Linked DNA regions of Homo sapiens: all the other regions are linked to region 1. Evidence: fine-mapped expression QTL. A gene starts in region 1. Each other region holds a variant in brackets. All regions are shown on one strand. Distances are between the middles of the regions. Region 1 holds the start of LINC02440 (long intergenic non-protein coding RNA 2440). Region 2 has its middle 23 kb from the start of LINC02440. Region 3 overlaps VSIG10 (V-set and immunoglobulin domain containing 10).

Region 1 (6,148 bases):
TGCCAAATTGAAAGCTGTAATCATCGCCCCTCTCTCCAGTGCCTAGTCCTGTGTTGTTAGCACTGCCTCATTGAAATATTCATCAGATAATCACTTGAGCAACTCAAGCTCAGCATTTCCAAATCCAACTCACCATCCTTGACCTCCTGCTCAAATCAGCTGCAACCTTGCTTCTCAAGTGTGTTTCAGGGCCAGCCTCATCAGCATCACCTGGGAGCTTGTAGACGCAGAATCACAGGCCCACCACAGACCAAGTGAATCAAGATGTGTGTTTTTAACAAGTCCCTGGATGACTCGCGTGCATATTAATGTTTGATAAGCATTGGTCTACACTACCGATTCTCTTGATTTCTATTAATGGCACCAGGGTTTTTCCAGTTGCTCAGTCTTTCAAACTTGGCAATCCCTTGAATCCTAGGAGTAAGTATCCACTAGCTTTCTCTAACTCAGGATTTTTGTGGGACCTGGGTCTCAGACAACAAGTCATAATAATAATGTAACTGGTATTGATATGTTTCAGTTGAATAAGTCCATGTCAATACCATCACACATACAATTTCACTTCTATAAATATTTATAGAGCTCCTTCTCTATGGTTGGTTCCATGCTAAGCTGTGATGGTGTAATGTTGAACAAAACTCAGTCTTTAGCCTCAAGGAGTTCACAGTTCAGAGGAAGCAGATACAAATAGACACAGAGAGAAAAAGTAAAGAATGCCATGGAAACCAGAGGAACCCTAACATAGCCCTGCAGGGTCAGAGGAGAGTCTGAAAGGAACCAGAAGGATGGGCAGACCTAACTAGTGAAGGTGAGAAAAAGAAAGGGCTTTGGGCAGAGGAATGGTTTGTGCACACACTGGGCTGGGATTGGGGCAGGGTACATTGGAGGACTCTGCCCTGTTTGTGATGTAGGGGGACATCACCTTACCTCTCCTGCCTCATTTGTCTCAACTTTTAACATGCAAACAGTAGGGTCATTGTGAAAATTCAGTAAAAATCAGGACATTTCAGAACTGCAACTACTTGGTCCTCATAAATATTGATTGAATATAAATTGTCAGCAACCACAGCTCGTACCTTAATTATGGAAATAATAATCATGGTAGTGGATTGAATGGTGGCTTCCCCCCTCCCCCAAAAGATGTCCCCATGTCAAATCATCTGAACCAGTGAATGTAATTTTATTTGGAAAAGGGGTCTTTGCAGGTGTAAAGATTTCAAGATGAGACCATCCGGAATTATCTGAGTAGGCACTATATTCAATGTCAAGTGTCCTGATAAGAAAAGGAGAGGACACAGGACAGGAGACAGGCCATGTGAAGATGGAGGCAGAGATTGGAGTGATTCAGCCAAAAGCCAACAAATGCCTGGAGCCACCAGAAGCTGAAAGGGGCCAGAAAGGATCCTCCCCTAGAGCCTTTGGAGGGAGCGTGGTCCTGTTGACATGTTGATTTTGGATTTCTCCAGAACTGTGAGAGAGTACATTGGAGTGGTTTGAACCATGAAATTTGTGGTAATTTGTACAGCAGTGGCAAGAAACTGATACACATGGTTATTGATTTTTTCAAATTCTCTACCTGTCAGGTGTGGATTCCTCCTCAATGATGTTTTGAAGTAATGCTATTATGCCCATTTTATGGATAAGGACTACTAAGGCTCATGGAGGAGAAGCAACTCTTTCTTGCTCATTCGTTCACTGAATATTGACTGGCCTCTTAGCTGACCAGACACTGGGGGACAGAGTCATGGGTAAAGGTTTGCAGAGGTCTCAGGGCTTGTAAGTTTAGAGGAGGGAGAATGAATAACCATTACTGGGTTATATGAATAACCCATACTGGGTTGAATAGTGCTTCCTCTCCCCAAACTTATTTCTACCTTGGACCTTGGAATGTGACCTTTTCTGTGAAATGGGAGAGTTCCCTGATTCCCCTGGCAGGATGTGCAACAGAGGTGCGTCTTGCCTATTCAGTCACCCCGCAGCTCAAACACCTAGGGGGAGCATGCAGATGGGCAGGTGGAGAGGCTGGGCAAGTGCTTTGGGCTCTTGGCCCCACAGTAGTGTCTACGGGTGGGTGCTTGCAACCCCAGTGTTACAAAGCTCTTTCAGCTTTGCCATCTGCAGATGGCTTGAGTGTTAATCAGCTCAATGGACCCTCGGCCTTATCAGAAGGGCAGAGGGCCAATGTGACAGCTTTCTGTATCCTGAGCTCTTGCCCAGTGTCTCAGAAGAATCACATCACACAAGGGTTTGAAGGATGAATGCAAGGTTTTATTGAGTGGTAGAGATGGCTCTTAGTGAGATGGATGGGGAGCGTGAAGGGGGATGGAGTGGGAAGGTGATCTTCCCCTGGAGTCGGGCTGCCCAGCCGCTGGACTCTTCTCTGACTGGCCCCAGCCAGACTCCTCTTGGCGTCCAGACATCTCTCCTCTTCTCTCTTTCTCTGCCACTTTGTTCCACCATCCATCTGCTTGCCTCCTTGTCTCCTCGCCTGCTGGTCTGTATTCTGGAGCTTGGGGTTCTGGGCTTATATGGGGGCAAGATAGGGGGCGTGGTGGGCCAAAAGGCAACTTTGGGGGCTTGAAAACAGGAATTCCCATTCTCATTTAGGGCCTCAGGTATCCAGGCTTGAGGGTGGGGCCTTTGCTGGAGAACCACCCTCTTCTACCCAGTGTCACCCTGTCTCCTGTCTGTATCATTTGGAAATAACATTACAGATATAATCAAGTTAAGACAGGTCATTCTGGGTTAGGGTGAACTCAAATCCAATGACCGGTATCCTTATAAAATGAGGGAAATTAGGACAGAGAGACACGGAGAGAAACTCACGTGACCATGGGCAGAGATGAGAGTGATGTGTCCACAGGCCAAGGAATGCCAAGGATGCTGGCAGCCACCAGAAGCTGGAGGAGGCAAGGAAAGATCCTCCCCTGGAGTCTTCAGAGGGAGCGTGGCCTTACACACATCCTGACTGCCAATTTCTAGCCTCTAGAGCTGGGAGACAATGCATACGTGTTGTTTTAAGCCATCCAGTTTGTGGTCATCTGTTACAGGAGCCGCTGGAAACTTATACGGCATTTAAGAAATATATATGATTGTAGACGTGGAAAGCACAGCTTAGGGGGCTGTGGGAACCTGGGAAAGGGAATGGAGGGGTGGGCAGGGAAGCTTCTTCCAGGAAGGCACGCTGGAGCTGAGACTGAGGGTCGGGTAGCAGTTAAGTGTGCAAAGAGGGATGGGAAATCTGAGCCAGAGGGAAGAACAGGTGTGAAGCCTCTGGTTTGAGAAGGACCTCGGTGCAGGAGGAGTGGAAGGTCAGCGCGCAGAGGGGAGTAAGGCAGGCAGCGGTGGGGCCACAGCCTGTGCGCCAATCATGACACATTCCCGTGCCCTGCGCTTCTGGTCCCTGGCTTCTCTTCTGGGGGCTGCTGGGTCAGTATGTCTGTGCGTTCTTCACTGGCTAGGTCTGCTCACCCTTTGGGTTCCTTCCAGACTCTCCTCTGACCCCCCCACACTGCCTACCACGCGGGGCGTTTGAACACGAATTTGGAGGTCCTTGTTTGTCCTTGAACGCGGCAGGGAGTGGAGGAAGGCGCCGGGAGGAGGCACAAAATCGCTTTGTGCGACAGCGCCCGACAGCTTCTCCGCCCGGAGCCGGCTCCGCCGTGAATGGGCCGCGGACAAAGGCGTCCCCTCCCAAGTACCTGTAATTGGAGCGTCCATGTGCGCGGGCGCTGCTGAAATGCAATGGACAAAAGGGAGAGGAATGGCCGCATCTTCCGGCTGCCCGTTGCTATGGTTTCCGCGGAGCTGGTGAAGGGGAGGGCTGTTACCAGGCAACGGGAGAGGGACCAAGACAAAGGGAGCTCAGGAGAGGGAAAGGTCTGGGGCAGGTGTGAGTACGTGTGCCGTGAGGTGGGGCGGAGACAGAGGAGGATGTGAGAGAGACACCGAGGACAGAGGGAGACAGAGGGGAGAGATAAGAGAGAGACAAAGAGCAGGGAGAGGCAGAGAGAGAGAGAGAGGGAGAGAGAGAAAGAGAGAGAGAGGAGAGAGAGAGAGCGAGAGCAAGAGGGCCACATTAAAAAACAGCTAACAGAGGCTCATAGAGACAGACAGGGACACGGAGACATTCATTCACTTACTGTGTGCCAAGCCTGTGTGCTTCTGGAGACAGGGCTATTAGCAAGAGAGACACCATCCCTGACCTAAGAACTCAGAGACCCAGAGAGAAAGAATGATGCTAGAGATAGAGCCAGAGGTAGATGCTTCCCTGCCTCCCCTGGGGTGACTGGGGCTTTCTCTTCAGGCCATTGTCTCCTGGAAGCTGGTGACTTCCGGGTAGGGTGTGCTCAAAGTCATCGTACCCTTCCTCCTGACTCAGGGCAGTGTCCACAGGCAGCTCCACTCCCAGGAGGCTGTTGTACAAAGTGACTTCTGGTTGAACAATGCTCAATCTCTCCCTAGCAGCTCTTATGGCTTGCCAACTATGATGCTTGAATTTCCCGCCATTATAGTGATCGTGGATAAGTTAACTCACTTAGTAATTATATAGCAACAAAATGCTGTTAAGCGTGTTGCTCAATTGCTCCTGTATGCTAGGTATTGTCAGCATTCTCACTTTACAAGAGTGGAAACTGAGGTTCTGAGAGATGAAATATTTTACCTGGTGTCACACAGTTACTCAGTGCAAAGCCACTAAGGTCTTCTGATCTCTAGCCTGATGTTCTTCCTTCTGCTTATATCCCTGTCTGGGCCATGTCTTATTTGTTTACAAGGAACAGAAGCCTACACAAATTAACTCTAGTGAAATGAGAGCTTTATCAGAAAGACACTAAAGAGATTCCTGAGATCCAAGGGCAGGAATCAGAGCTGGTTTTCACAAGAAACTCCACTGGGTACTACAGAGAGCTCAGAAGTCATGGAGACTATTCTTTCTATCTCTTTCTGAGACCTCCTGGTGGCTCCTCTCTGCTTCTGTCTGCACACTGCTCAGTGCCAAAAATGCCAAAATGACCTTCAAGGAAGTCTTTCTTTTCCAGTTTACATTTTCAAGAGACAGCCTGATTGGCTCACTTAGATCAAGTGTACAGTTCTGATCCAATGAATTCTGGCCAAGGGTCAGGCCCCTAGCATACAACATGAGTGGCCAATTGACTTGTGGCCAGTTCTTCAGCAGGGGCTGCCAAAACAGGTGCTGTGGATGGGACAGACATCATGAGTTATCTATGTAAACTCACTCACTTCTATCCTGGGGATACCAAGAGTAACCTTGCCTGCCTTCCAGGGCTGTTGTAAGGAGCTCATACTTATCGAAGGAGTTTGTAAAGTGTTAGGTGCCACAGAAGACCAAGTAACTACATAGGTTAAATGGTAGTATCTGGATGACAAAACCGTATTGTCCTTCTTCATCTTCTTTGCCAAGATCATGGCCCGAGGCCAATGGGGCAGCATGCAAGAAAGTTGTTATTGACAAGGGAGTGAAGAAAGGAAGAGTTCAGAGGATACCTGAGCTAAAGTGTGTACCATGATGAAATGAAAACGACGAGGAGGATGTTATTCCTCCATTCTCTCACTCACCCATTTAGTAAGCCCCGTGAGCCTACAATGTGCAAGAAACTATACAAGATGATAAAGATACAATGGTGAAAAAGACATGGCCTCTGTTCTTCAGGGACTCAAAGGGGGTGAGGCACCAGGCACATAACCTGCCAGATACTATGTATTTTAAGATGTGCTATGAGAGAGATGTAATGGTATCAGAGGAGGTGACTTAACTCAGACAGCAGCACCAAGGAAGGTGTTGTACCAAACACCTGTCAACTCCAACTGAAATGGCACTGTGCCCTGGAGACAGTGAATGAGACCTAGGGTTTACTGGAGGAACTTAAATACAGGGACATTTGATGCTCAAATGATCTCATCTTTGGCTAGTGGAAGACTATTAAAGTTGGTCCTTGAGTTCTCTAGAAATAACCCTAATATATCAACAGCTTTCTCATACTTTGGTATGATAATCTTTTCAGACTTATCTTATACATTTGCTACTCAAAGCCAGAGTCAGCCATTTCTCCAAGGAGCTCAGACCTCTTTGAGTGGGAAAATGGTATTTGAGACCATCATCTGGGTGGTGGGAGTGCTCACTGCTCCT
Region 2 (6,148 bases), 24 kb after region 1:
GTCAGGTAGCATGATGCTTCCAGGTTTGTTCTTTTTGCTTAGGATTGCCTTGGATGTATGGGCTCTTTTTTTGGTTCCATATGAAATTTAAAGTAGTTATTTCTAATTCTGTGAAGAAAGTCAGTGGTAGCTTGATGGAAATAACATTGAATCTATGAATTGTTTTGGGCAGTATGGCCGTTTTCATGATGTTGATTCTTCCTATCCATGAGAATGGAATTTTTTTCCAGTTGTTTGTGTCCTCTGTTATTTTCTTGAGGAGCAGTTTGTAGTTGTCCTTGAAGAGGTCCTTCACATCCCTTGTAAGTTGTATTCCTAGGTATTTTATTCTCTTTGTAGCAATTGTGAGTGGGAGTTCACTCATGATTTGGCTCTCTGCTTGTCTATTATTGGTGTATAGAAATGCTTGTGATTTTTGCAGCTTGATTTTGTATCCTGAGACTTTGCTGAAGTTGCTTATCTGCTTAAGGAGTTTTGGGGCTGTGACAATAGGGCTTTCTAAATATACAGTCATGTCATCTGCAATCAGAGACAATTTGACTTCCTCTCTTCCTATTTGAATATGCTTTATTTCTTTATCTTGCCTGATTGCCCTGGCCAGAACTTCCAATACTATGTGGAATAGGAGTGGGGAGAGAGGGCATCCTTTTCTTGTGCTGGTTTTCAAAGGGAGTGCTTCCAGCTTTTGCCCATTCAGTATGATACTAGCTATGGGTTTGTCATAAATAGCTCTTGTTATTTTGAGATATGTTCCATCAATACACCTAGTTTTCTGACTGTTTTTAGCATGAAAGTGTGTTGAATATTATCAAAGGCCTTTTCTGCATCTATTGAGATAATCATGTGGTTTTTGTCTTTGGTTTTCTTTATGTGATGAATTACATTTATTGATTTGCTTATGTTGAACCAACCTTGCATCCTAGGGATGAAGCCAACTTGATTGTGGTGGATAAGCTTTTTGATGTGCTGCTGGATTCAGTTTGCCATTATTTTATTGAGGATTTTTGCACTGATGTTCACCAGGGATATTGGCCTGAAATTTTTTGTTGTTGTTGTGTCTCTGCCAGGTTTTGGTATCAGGATGATGCTGGCCTCAAAAAATGAGTTAGGGAGGGGTCCCTCTTTTGCTATCATTTCGAATAGTTTCAGAAGGAGTGGTACCATCTCCTCTTTGTACCTCTGGTAGAATTTGGCTATGAATCTGTCTGGTCCTGGGCTTTTTTTGGTTGGTAGGCTATTAATTATTTAATTTCAGAACTTGTTATTGGTCTTAATTTCAGAACTTTTTATTGGTCTATTCAGGGATTTGACTTCTTCCTGGTTTAGTCTTGGGAGGGTGTATGTGTCCGGGTATTTATCCATTTCTTCTAGATTTTCTAGTTTATTTCTGTAGAGGTGTTTATAGTATTCTCTGGTGGTAGTTTGTATTTCTGTGGGATCAGTGGTGATGTCCCCTTTATCATTTTTTATTGTGTTTATTTGATTCTTCTCTTTTTTCTTTATTAGTCTGGCTAGTAGTCTATCTATTTTGTTAATCTTTTCAAAAAACCAGCTCCTAAATTCATTGATTTTTTTGAAGGGTTTTTTGTATCTCTATCTCCTTCTGTTCTGCTCTGATCTTACTTATTTCTTGTATTCTGCTAGGTTTTGAATTTGTTTGCTCTTGCTTCTCTAGTTCCTTTAATTGTGATGTTTGGTTGTCAATTTCAGATCTTTCCCACTTTCTGATGCAGGCATTTAGTGCATAAATTTCCCTCTTAACACTGCGTTAGCTGTGTCCCAGAGATTCTGGTACATTGTCTCTTTTTTCTCATTGGTTTCAAAGAACTTCGTTATTTCTGCTTTAATTTCATTATTTACCCAGTAGTCATTCAGGAGAAGGTTGTTTAGTTTTCATGTAGTTGTGCAGTTTGAGTGAGTTTCTTAATCCTGAGTTCTAATTTGATTGCACTGTGGTCTGAGAGACTGTTATGTTTTCCATTCTTTTCCATTTGCTGAGGAGTGTTCTACTTCCAATTATGTGGTCAGTTTTAGAATAAGTGCTATGTGGTGCTGAGAAGAATGTATGTTCTGTTGATTTGGGGTGGAGAGTTCTGTAGATGTCTATCAGGTCCACTTGGTCCAGAGCTGAGTTCAAGTCCTGAATATTCTTGTTAATTTTCTGTCTCATTGATCTGTCTAATAGTGACAGTGGGGTGTTAAAATCTCCCACTATTATTCTGTGGGAGTCTAAGTCTGTTTGTAGGTCTCTAAGAACTTGTTTTATGAATCTGGATGCTCCTGTATTGGGTGCATATATATTTAGGATAGTTAGCTCTTCTTGTTGCATTGATCCCTTTACCATTGTGTAATGCCCTTCTTTGTCTTTTTTTATCTTTGTTGGTTTAAATTCTGTTTTATCAGAGACTAAGATTGCAACCCCTGCTTTTTTTTGCTTTCCATTTGCTTGGTAAATATTCTTCCATCCCTTTATTTTCAGTGTATGTGTGTCTTCACACATGAGATGGGTCTCTTGAATACAGCACACTGAAGGGCCTTGACTCTTTATCCAATTTGCCAGTCTGTGTCTTTTAATTGGGGCATTTAGCCCATTTACATTTAAGATTAATATTGTTATGTGTGAATTTGATCCTGTCATCATGATGCTAGCTGGTTATTTTGCACATTAGTTGATGCAGTTTCTTCACAATGTCATTGGTCTTTATAGTTTGGTGTGTTTTTGCAGTGGCTGGTGCTGGTTTTTCCTTTCCATGTTTAGTGCTTCCTTCAGGAGCTCTTGTAAGGCAGGCCTGGTGGTAACAAAATCCCTCAGCA[C/T]TTGCTTGTCTGTAAAGGATTTTATTTCTCCTTCACTTATGAAGCTTAGTTTGGCTGGATATAAAATTCTGGGTTGAAGATTCTTTTCTTTAAGAATGTTGACTATTGGCCCCCACTCTTTTCTGGCATGTATGGTTTCTGCAGAGAGATCTGCTCTTAGTCTGATGGGCTTCCATTTGTAGGTAACCTGACCTTTCTTTCTGGCTGCCCTTAACATTTTTTCCTTCATTTCAACATTGGAGAATGTGACGATTATGTATCTTGGGGTTGCCCTTCTTGAGGATTATCTTAGTGGTGTTCTCTGTATTTCCTGAATTTGAATATTGGGCTGTCTTGCTAGGTTAAGGAAGTTCTCCTGGATAATACCCTGAAGTGTGTTTTCCAATTTGGTCCCCTTCTCACTGTCACTTTCAGGTACACCAATCAATCGGAGGTTTGATCTTTTCACATAGTCCCGTATTTCTTGGAGGCTTTGTTCATTCCTTTTCATCTTTTTTCTCTAATCTTTTCTTCATACCTTATTTCAGTAAGTTGATCTTCAGTCTCTGATATCCTTTCTTCTGCTTGATTGATTCAGCTATGGATACTTGTGTATGCCTCATGAAGTTCTCGTGCTGTGTTTTTAGCTCCATCAGGTCATTTATTCTCTACTCTAAACTGGTTATTCTAGTTAGCAGTTCCTGTAACCTTTTATCAGGGTTCTCAGCTTCCTTGCATTGTGTTAGAACATGCTCCTTTAGCTCAGAGGAGTTTGTTATTACCTACCTTCTGAAGCCTACTTCTGTCAATTCGTCAAACTCCTTCTCTGTCCAGTTTTGTGCCCTTGCTGGAGAGGAGTTGCAATCATTTGGAGGAGTAGAGGCATTCTGGTTTTTGGAATTTTCAGTATTTTTGCGCTGATTTTCCCTCATCATGGATTTATCTACCTTTGATCTTTGAGGCTGATGACCTTTGGATGGAGTTTTTGTGTGGAGGTCTTTTTTGTTGATGTTGTTGCTGTTGCTTTCTGTTTGTTAGTTTTTATTCTAACAGTCAGGTCCCTCTCCTGCAGGTCTGCTGCAGTTTGCTAGAGGTCCACTCCAGATGCTGTTTGCCTGGGTATCACCAGCAGAGGCTGCAGAACAGCAAAGATTGCTGCCTGCTCCTTCTCTGGAAGCTTTGTCTCACAGGGGCATCAGCCTGATGCCAGCTGGAGCTCTCCTGTATGAGGCATCTGTTGACCCCTGCTGGAAGGTGTCTCCCAGTCAGGAGGCACAGGGGTTAGGGACCCACTTGAGGAGGCAGTCTGTCCCTTAGCAGAGCTTGAGCGCTGTGCTGGGAGAATCCTGCTTATCTCCAGCACTCTTCAGAGCTGGAAGGCAGGAAAGTTCAAGTCCATTGAAGCTGTGCCCACAGCCGCCTCTTCCCCCAGGTGCTCTGTCCCAGGGAGCTGGGAGTTTTATCTATAAGCCCCTGACTGGGGCTGCTGCTTTTCTTTCAGAGATGCCCTGCCAAGTGAGGAGGAATCTAGAGAGGCAGTCTGGCCACAGCTGCTTTACTGTGCTGTGGTGAATTCCACCCAGTCCAAACTTCCTGGCCTCCTTAGCACTGTCAGGGGATAACCACCTACTCAAGTCTCAGTAATGGCAGATGCCCCTCCCCCCACCAAGCTTGATCATCCCAGGTCAAATTCAGACCTCTGTGCTGGCAGTGAGAATTTCAAGCAAGTGGTTCTTAGCTTGCTGGTGTCCGTGGGAATGGGACCCACTGAGCAAGACCACTTGACTCCCTGTCTTCAGCCCCCTTTCCAGGGGAGTGAATGATTCTGTCTCGCTGGGGTTCCAGGCACCACTGGGATATGAAAAAACAACAACAACAACAACAACAACAACAAACTCCCACAGCTAGCTCGGTGCCTGCCCAAACAGCTGCCCAGTTTTGTGCTTGAAATCCAGGGCCCTGGTGGTGTAGGCACACGAGGGAATCTCCTGGTCTGCAGATTGCAAAAACCATAGGAAAAGTGCAGTATCAGGGCCGGATAGCACAGTCCCTCACGGCTTCCCTTGGCTGGGGGAGAGAGGTCCCCAGCTCCTTGCACTTCCCAGGTGAGGAAATGCCCCACCCTGCTTCTGCTCACCCTCTGTGGGCTGCACCCGCTGTCTAACCAGTCCCAATGACATGAGCTGGGTACCTCAGTCAGAAATGCGGAAATCTCCCACCTTCTGCCTTTGTCTCACTGGGAGCTGCAGACCAGAGCTGTTCCTATTCGACCATCTTGCCAGGTCTGTACCACGTTTTCTTTATCCATTCATCCATCAGTGGGCACTTAAATTGGTTCTATTCCTTGGCCATGTGAATAATGCTGCAATGAACATGAAAATGCAGATATCTCTTTGATATACTGATTTCATTTCCCTTGGAAATAGACCCTTTAATAGGACTACTGGATCATATGGTAGTTCTATTTTTAATTTTTTTGAGGAACCTCCATACTGTTTTCCATAATGGCTGTGCTAATTTACATTCCAGGGTTCCCATTTCTCCAAATTCTCTTCTACACTTATCTTCCGTCTTTTTCATATAGCCATTCTAACAGTTGTGAAGTAATACCTGATTCTAGTCTTAATTTGCATTTTGCTGATAATTAGTAATTTTGAGCATTTTTCATCACTCTTTGGCCATTTGTATGTCTTCTTTTGAGAAATGTCTCTTCAGATCCTTTGAATTTCTAATTGGGTTATTTGTTTTGTTACTATTGTGTTGTTTGAGTTCCTTATATATTTTGGATATTACCCTCTTATCAGATGTATAATTTGCAAATATATTCTCTCATTCCACAGGTTAACTCTTCATTCTGTTGATTGTTTCCTTGGTTGTGCAGAAGCTTTTTAGTTTGATACACTCCCGTTCTTCTAGTTTTTGCTTTTGTTGCCTGTGCTTTTGCGTTCATATACAAAAAATTATTCCCCAGACCAATGTCATGGAACTTTCACCCTGTTTTCTTCTAGTAGTTTTAGAGAGAAATTTCATACTCTTTAGTTATCACCTTCCCAAACCTCCCCCTCCCCATCAATAAGCAACTGCAAATCTACTTTTTGTCTCTATAGATTTGACTATTCTGGTAGTTTTAAATGGAATCATATAATATGTGTTTTTTTGTGTCTGACTTCTTTCACTTAGCACAATCTTTTCAAGGTTTACCCATGTTATAGCATGTATCAGAACTGTATTTCTTTTTACAATCAAATAATTTTCCATTGTATGGATATATAATACTATATTTTGTTTATTTATCCATCAGTTGATGAGTATTTGAGTTGTTTCCACTTTCTGGCTATTATGAATAATGCTTTCA
Region 3 (6,148 bases), 690 kb before region 1:
TCACTTCAGCCCAGGAGGTGGAGGTTGCAGTGAGCTGTGATTGTGCCAGTACACTCCAGCCTGGGTGACACAATGAGACCCTCCCTATCTCAAGAAAAAAAAGAAAAGGAAAAGCTTTGCCAAATCCTGTTCTAGAACAATCTACAGCTGCTGCCTTCCTGTTCTTTGCTGTCCTCTTTGACATCAGAATTCACTTCTTTCCTTACCCACCACAAATATAGGTTGGCCAGTCAAGAGCTGCAAAAGGTTCATTTACATCTCAGTATCTTGAATTCCTTGCTAACAGGAAAAGTTACCTTATCTTCAGCTATTTACTCTTTAGACCAGGAATTTTATTCGAAAATGACTTCAGAATGCACCACACAGTCTGTGCTAATCAGTTAATGTGTACTTCTTCAATGGGATAAGGTCTGTGGGAAGACTTACAGACTGTGATATCACCTTTATAGGCAAAATCAACAACCGACTTTCTCTTGATCTCCCTAGTGACTGCCACGCAAAGAGCCCATCCCAGAGATCTGCAGGCTCCTATAAGCACCAATCTCTGCTACAGATAAGCTTGGCAGGCCAGGCACGGTGGCTCATCCTGTAATCCCAGCGCTTTGGGAGGCCGAGGTGGGTGGATCGCTTGAGGTCAGGAGTTTGAGACCCACCTGGCCAACATGGTGAAACCCCATCTCTACTAAAAATACAAAAATCAGCTGGGCGTGGTAGAGCATGCCTGTAATCCCAGCTACTCAGGAGGCTGAAGCAAGAGAATCACCTAAACAAGGTCAGGAGATCGAGACCATCCTGGCTAACACGGTGAAACCCCGTCTCTACTAAAAATACAAAAAATTAGCAAGGCATGGTGGCGGGCGCCTGTAGTCCCAGCTACTCTGGAGGCTGAGGCAGGAGAATGGTGTGAACCCGGGAGGCGGAGCTTGCAGTGAGCCGAGATCGCGCCACTGCACTCCAGCCTGGGCAACAGAGTGAGACTCCGTCTCGAACAAACAAACAAACAAAAACAGATAAGCTTGGCAAGACCTAAATTAATCAATCCTTGGGCAAGAATCACCCCACCTTCTGACCAGGCACAAACAAGTTTTCTTCGGTGTACCCAGCATTCCCTTTCCCTAGGGGCCTACACTGTGAGAAGACATAGCGACACCACCACCAACACAGACAAAGAGCTGTTGGTGGGTCCATATCAGACAGGTCCATCAGCCAGGAAACATGGATCTTTCTGAGATTCCCTTTCTTGGAAGTTTGGACTGAAGGCCACATCACTGGCTAGAGAGGAGGTCCCCATCCCCCAAACCCAACTGAATCCTAAGCCTCTTGGAGGTAGACACAGACCAGCTTCCTCATTGCTCACGTGCGAGCTGGTTCCATTGTTCCCCAAACACTTGTTTGGCCTGAGAAAAACAGACACAGGGAGAGCCTGGCACTGTGTGCCATGAAATCTGACTGGGGTCTTTCATGGGCTGATTTATCTCTCGATAGCTAAGCTCCTCAAATGCATATATAAGAGACAATATCTTTAAGAAAAAGAAAAACACAAAGTTGGCTGGGCATGATGGCTCATGCCTGTAATCCCAGCATTTTGGGAGGCCGAGGCGGGTGGATCACCTGAGGTCAGGAGTTCAAGAACAGCCTGGCCAACATGGTGAAACCCTGCCTCTACTAAAAATACAAAAATTAGCCAGGTGTGGTGATGCACGCCTGTAGTCCCAGCTACTTGGGAGGCTGAGGCAGGAGAATCATTTGAACTCAGGAGGCAGAGGTTGCAGTGAGCCGAGATCACACCACTCCTGGGCAACAGAGCGAGACTTCGTCTCAAAAAAAAAAAAAAAAAGTTGGGCCCAGGCATGATGGCTCACGCCTGTAATCCCAGCACTTTGGGAGCCCAAGGCGTGTGGATCACCTGAGGTCAGGAGTTCAAGACCCAGCCTGGCCAACATGGTGAAACCCTGTCTTTTCTAAAAATACAAAGAATTAGCCAGGCGTGATGGCAAATGCGTGTAATACCACCTACTTGGGAGGCGAGGCAGGAGAATCGCTTGAACCCGGGAGGCAGAGGTTGCAGTGAGCTCAGATTGCACCACTGCACTCCAGCCTGGGCAACAAGAGCGAAACTTTGTCTCAAAAAAAAAAAAGCACAAAGTCAGCTGGGCACGGTGGCTCACCTCTGTAATCCCAGCACTTTGGGAGGCGGAGGCAGGCGGATCACTTGAGGTCAGGAGTTCAAGACCACCCTGGGCAATATGGCAAAACAAAACCCTGTCCCTACTAAAAACACAAAAATTATTCAGGCGTGGTAGTGGGTGCCTGTAATCCCAGCTACTTGGGAGGCTGGGGCAGGAGAATAGCTTGAACCCAGGAGGCAGAGGCTGCCATGAGCCGAGATCATGCCAGTGTGGGTGACCAAGTAAAACTGCGTCTCAAAAAAAAAAAGTGTACCAGGATATGGGAAAGGCTGTGACACCTTCCCTATCTGACCAGCCTGTCTGCAGGTAAACACATGGCTGTTCCAATATCATACCCACTCCAATTTGGAGGTAGCAGGGATGGGTCAATTGATGAAATAAACAGCTGTGTGGCCGGGTAAGATGGATCCTGCCT[G/A]TAATCTCAGCATTGTGGGAGGCTGACACGGGAGGATCGCTTGAACCCAGTAGTTCAAGACCAGCCTGAGCAACATAATGAGGCCCTGTCTCTGCAAAAATATTTGTTTAATCAATTTATTTATTTACTTATGTATTTTTTTGAGATGGAGTCTCACTCTGTCACCCAGGCTGGAGTGCAGTGGTGAAAACTCAGCTCACTGCAAACTCCGCTTCCTGGGTTCAAATGATTCTCCCACATCAGCCTCCTGAGTAGCTGAGATGACAGGCGTGTGTCACCACGCCCAGCTAATTTTTTTGTATTTTTAATAGAAATGGGGTTTCACTATGTTGGCCAAGGCGGTTTCAAACTTCCGACCTCAGGTGATCTGCCCACCTTGGTCTCCCAAAGCGCTGGGATTACAGGCGTGAGCCACCACTCCCAGCCTAAATTTAAAAATTGAAAAAAAAAAAAAAGAAAGAAAGAAAGAAACGGCGTTGGCAGCCCTTAACTGCTCTGGACCAAGGGATTTCTGTACATTTAGAAGCAGAGTCTCAATCCTAATGGCAAGACCCTTCAACTTCACCTTTCAATTAACAGGGAGCAGTGCATACTCTTGTTGTGGGATGAGTGATGAAATCACACCACGGGTGCCCATTCCAGGCAGGTTGAATTGCCCCGGGCCTACAGAAAACCTGACCTCCTACAAGACAGAGACACCAAATGCCCACCGATGGACAAGCAGAGGACCAAGGGGTAAGGAGGGAGAAATCTAGCAACCTCCCTACTTCCATTTCCATGTTTCTACAGCATCTCTGTCCATTCACACATCCCCAGCCACTTGCAGATAACAAACTGTCATATCTTGGAATTTGTTCCCCCTAGATTCCAAGGCCATGTTAGAATGTTTCCAAATTGTTCTCCTTAAGAGAAGGAGGGGGCTGGGCGAGGTGGTTCATATCTGTAAGCCCAGCACTTTGGGAGGCCAAGGAGGGAAGACTGCTTGAGCCCAGGAGTTCAAAACCAGCCTGGGCAATATAGTGAGACCTTGTCTCTACAAAAAAACTAAAAAATTAGCCGAGTGTGGTGGCACACACTATTAGTCTCAGCTACTCAGGACGGTGAGATAAAAGAATCACTTGAGCCTAGGAATTCAAGGCTGTAGTGAGCCGAAATCACACCACTGCACTCCAGCCTGGGTGACAGAGTGAGATCCTGTCTCAAAAAAAAAAAAAAAAAAAGAGAGAGAAGGAGGTAATGTGACTCAGCTAGCAACTACATCAGTGAAAAGATCTGGGCACAAAGAGTCCCTAACCCACAGCAAGACCTGTTCGAAAGACCCAGATGAGGCTGGGCGCGGTGGCTCATGCCTGTAATCCCAGGACTTTGGGAGGCCGAGGCGGGTGGATCACGAGGTTAGGAGTTCAAGACCAGCCTGGCCAACATGGTGAAACCCCGTCTCTACTAAAGATACAAAAAATTAGCCAGGCGTGGTGGCGCACGCCTGTAATCCCAGCTACTCGGGAACCTAAGGCAGGAGAATCACCTGAACCCGGGAGGCGGAGGCTGCAGTGAGCCGAGCCATTGCACTCCAGCCTGGGTGACAGGGCGAGACTGTGTCTCAGAAAAAAAAAAAAAAAAAAGGACCCAGATATAAACTGGTTGATTGTTGAGAACTTGAGATGGACTATCCCACGGGAATCCCATCGCTGGCTTAACCACTGGATCCAGTTCAAGTGTGCTGAGGGCTACATGAGTTTATCTCATTAATGCATAACACAAATCCGTAACTCCTTCCACCGTTACCCTCAATTTCACAGACAATAAAACTAACACTGGAGTTCAAGGGACTTTCCCAAGGTCACACAGACAACAACAGCTAATAGAACGTGGATTTGAACCCAGTCATCTGGACCACTCCGAAATACCACTGCCATCCCAGAAAGAGGCTGAATCAAACCTAATCTATTTTCCTAAATCTACGCAAAAATGAGGGCCAACTCCAATCAGAGATGTCACGCCCTCCCCGCTGGCCACTGTCGGGGAGCAACACAGGCTTCCAAGGCAGAGAGGAGTCTGCTGTTTAGCCCAGGGACCTCCTAAGATGAGAACCAGGAGACCAACCCCAGACGGCTCTGGTGTATTTGAATCAAAGGGTATCTGTGTCTGGTTTTCACAAACAAGCCCTACATCAGTCAAGGACCCCATGTATTTCCACGTGAAGAAATTTCCATACTATGAATCACAGCACAGTAACTAAGACATGCACAGGACTTCCCTGGAGGGAGTACAAAGTGCCACTGGAATTCAGTGACATTTTTATTCCTTTTTCTTTTTTTTTTTTTTTTATGAGACAGACTCTTGTTCTGTCACCCAGGCTGGGGTGCAGTGGTGCCATCTCGGCTCACTGCAACCTCCGCCCTCCCCGGTTGAAGCTTTTCTTGTGTGTCAGCCTCCCACGCATCTGGGATCACAGGTGTGCATCATCACACCTGATTAAGTTTTGTATTTTTAGTAGAGATGGAGTTTCACCATGTTGGCCAGGCTGGTCTCAAACTCCTGACCTCAAGTGATCCACCCGCCTCAGCCTCCCAAAGTGCTGGGATTACAGGCATGAGCCACTGCACCCAGCCATGAGTTCAGTGACATTTTTAAAGTTGCAAGTTCACGTTCATTGCAACAAGACCTTGCCTTTATCTCCCTACAGGGCAATAATGAAACTAATCCATCCTCCAATAAACTTAGCCAATGATTAACAAATCAGTGTCTGATCAAGTCATCATAAACTAAAGAGAGTGATGATAAAGAAACAAAAAGTTGCAATGTCGCCTTACCCCACTGTGGATAAAAGATAAGGTTATTCATTGATGAGATGGACAGGAAGCGATGACTAATTATTTTGGGCAGGTGGACTGAGGGAGACCAGCCAGCACTTGCCCGTAGGCTCACAGTGGGAACCAAACAGTGGGGCCAAGATGGGTGACATTTTTTAATGCACCCCCTTCATTCCTGGCATCACCCAGGAATTTATCTATGGCCTCTCCAGACACAGAAACACTGCTGTAATGGACGATGCCCTAATCTTTGAGAATTGGCAGAAACCTTAGACATCACCCAAAACCAAGAAGTGTCCTGGAAGCCTCTCTTTCCTTTATCCTCTACTTCTGATCCAGCAGCGAGTCCTGCTGGTCTCCTTCCAAAATATTTTCCAAACCTGTGCATTTTCACCAAGGCCACTGTCGCCACCCTGTCTGGTCACCGACTCTGTATACCTTCAATTCTCCCTTCCCTGTTTTATTTCATCAGCTCTTCTTGATACCAAACACATACATTTTCCATGTGCAAATGAAATGGTGCCACACCCCTGCTGGAAGCTCCCGGAGTTTCTCCTGCACACAGAATAAAATCACAACTCCTAGCCAGGCACAATGGCTCACGCCTGTAATCCCACACTTTGGGAGGCTGAGGCGGGCGGATCACCTGGGGTCAGGAGTTCAAGACCAGCCTGGCCAACATGGTGAAAACCCCTTTCTACGAAAAATACAAAAATTGGCCGAGCATGGTG

The links.
Region 2: its variant is fine-mapped to the expression of LINC02440 in hippocampus (GTEx, PIP 0.98).
Region 3: its variant is fine-mapped to the expression of LINC02440 in amygdala (GTEx, PIP 0.96).

The regions. Positions count from the first base shown.
Region 1 is chr12:118,770,785-118,776,932 of GRCh38, forward strand. LINC02440 (long intergenic non-protein coding RNA 2440) reads right to left here and starts at 3,821. Exons shown (of 3, transcript NR_183608.1): 1 at 3,702-3,821; 2 at 2,827-2,991; 3 at 2,247-2,518.
Region 2 is chr12:118,794,536-118,800,683 of GRCh38, forward strand. No RefSeq gene overlaps it. Among named protein-coding and RNA genes, the nearest start is that of LINC02440, 23 kb to the left of the region's middle. The variant C/T (reference allele first, on the strand shown) is at 2,815.
Region 3 is chr12:118,084,033-118,090,180 of GRCh38, forward strand. The region is part of intron 2 of VSIG10 (V-set and immunoglobulin domain containing 10); the gene reads right to left. Among named protein-coding and RNA genes, the nearest start is that of VSIG10, 17 kb to the right of the region's middle. RefSeq lists an enhancer at 1,335-1,877. The variant G/A (reference allele first, on the strand shown) is at 2,605.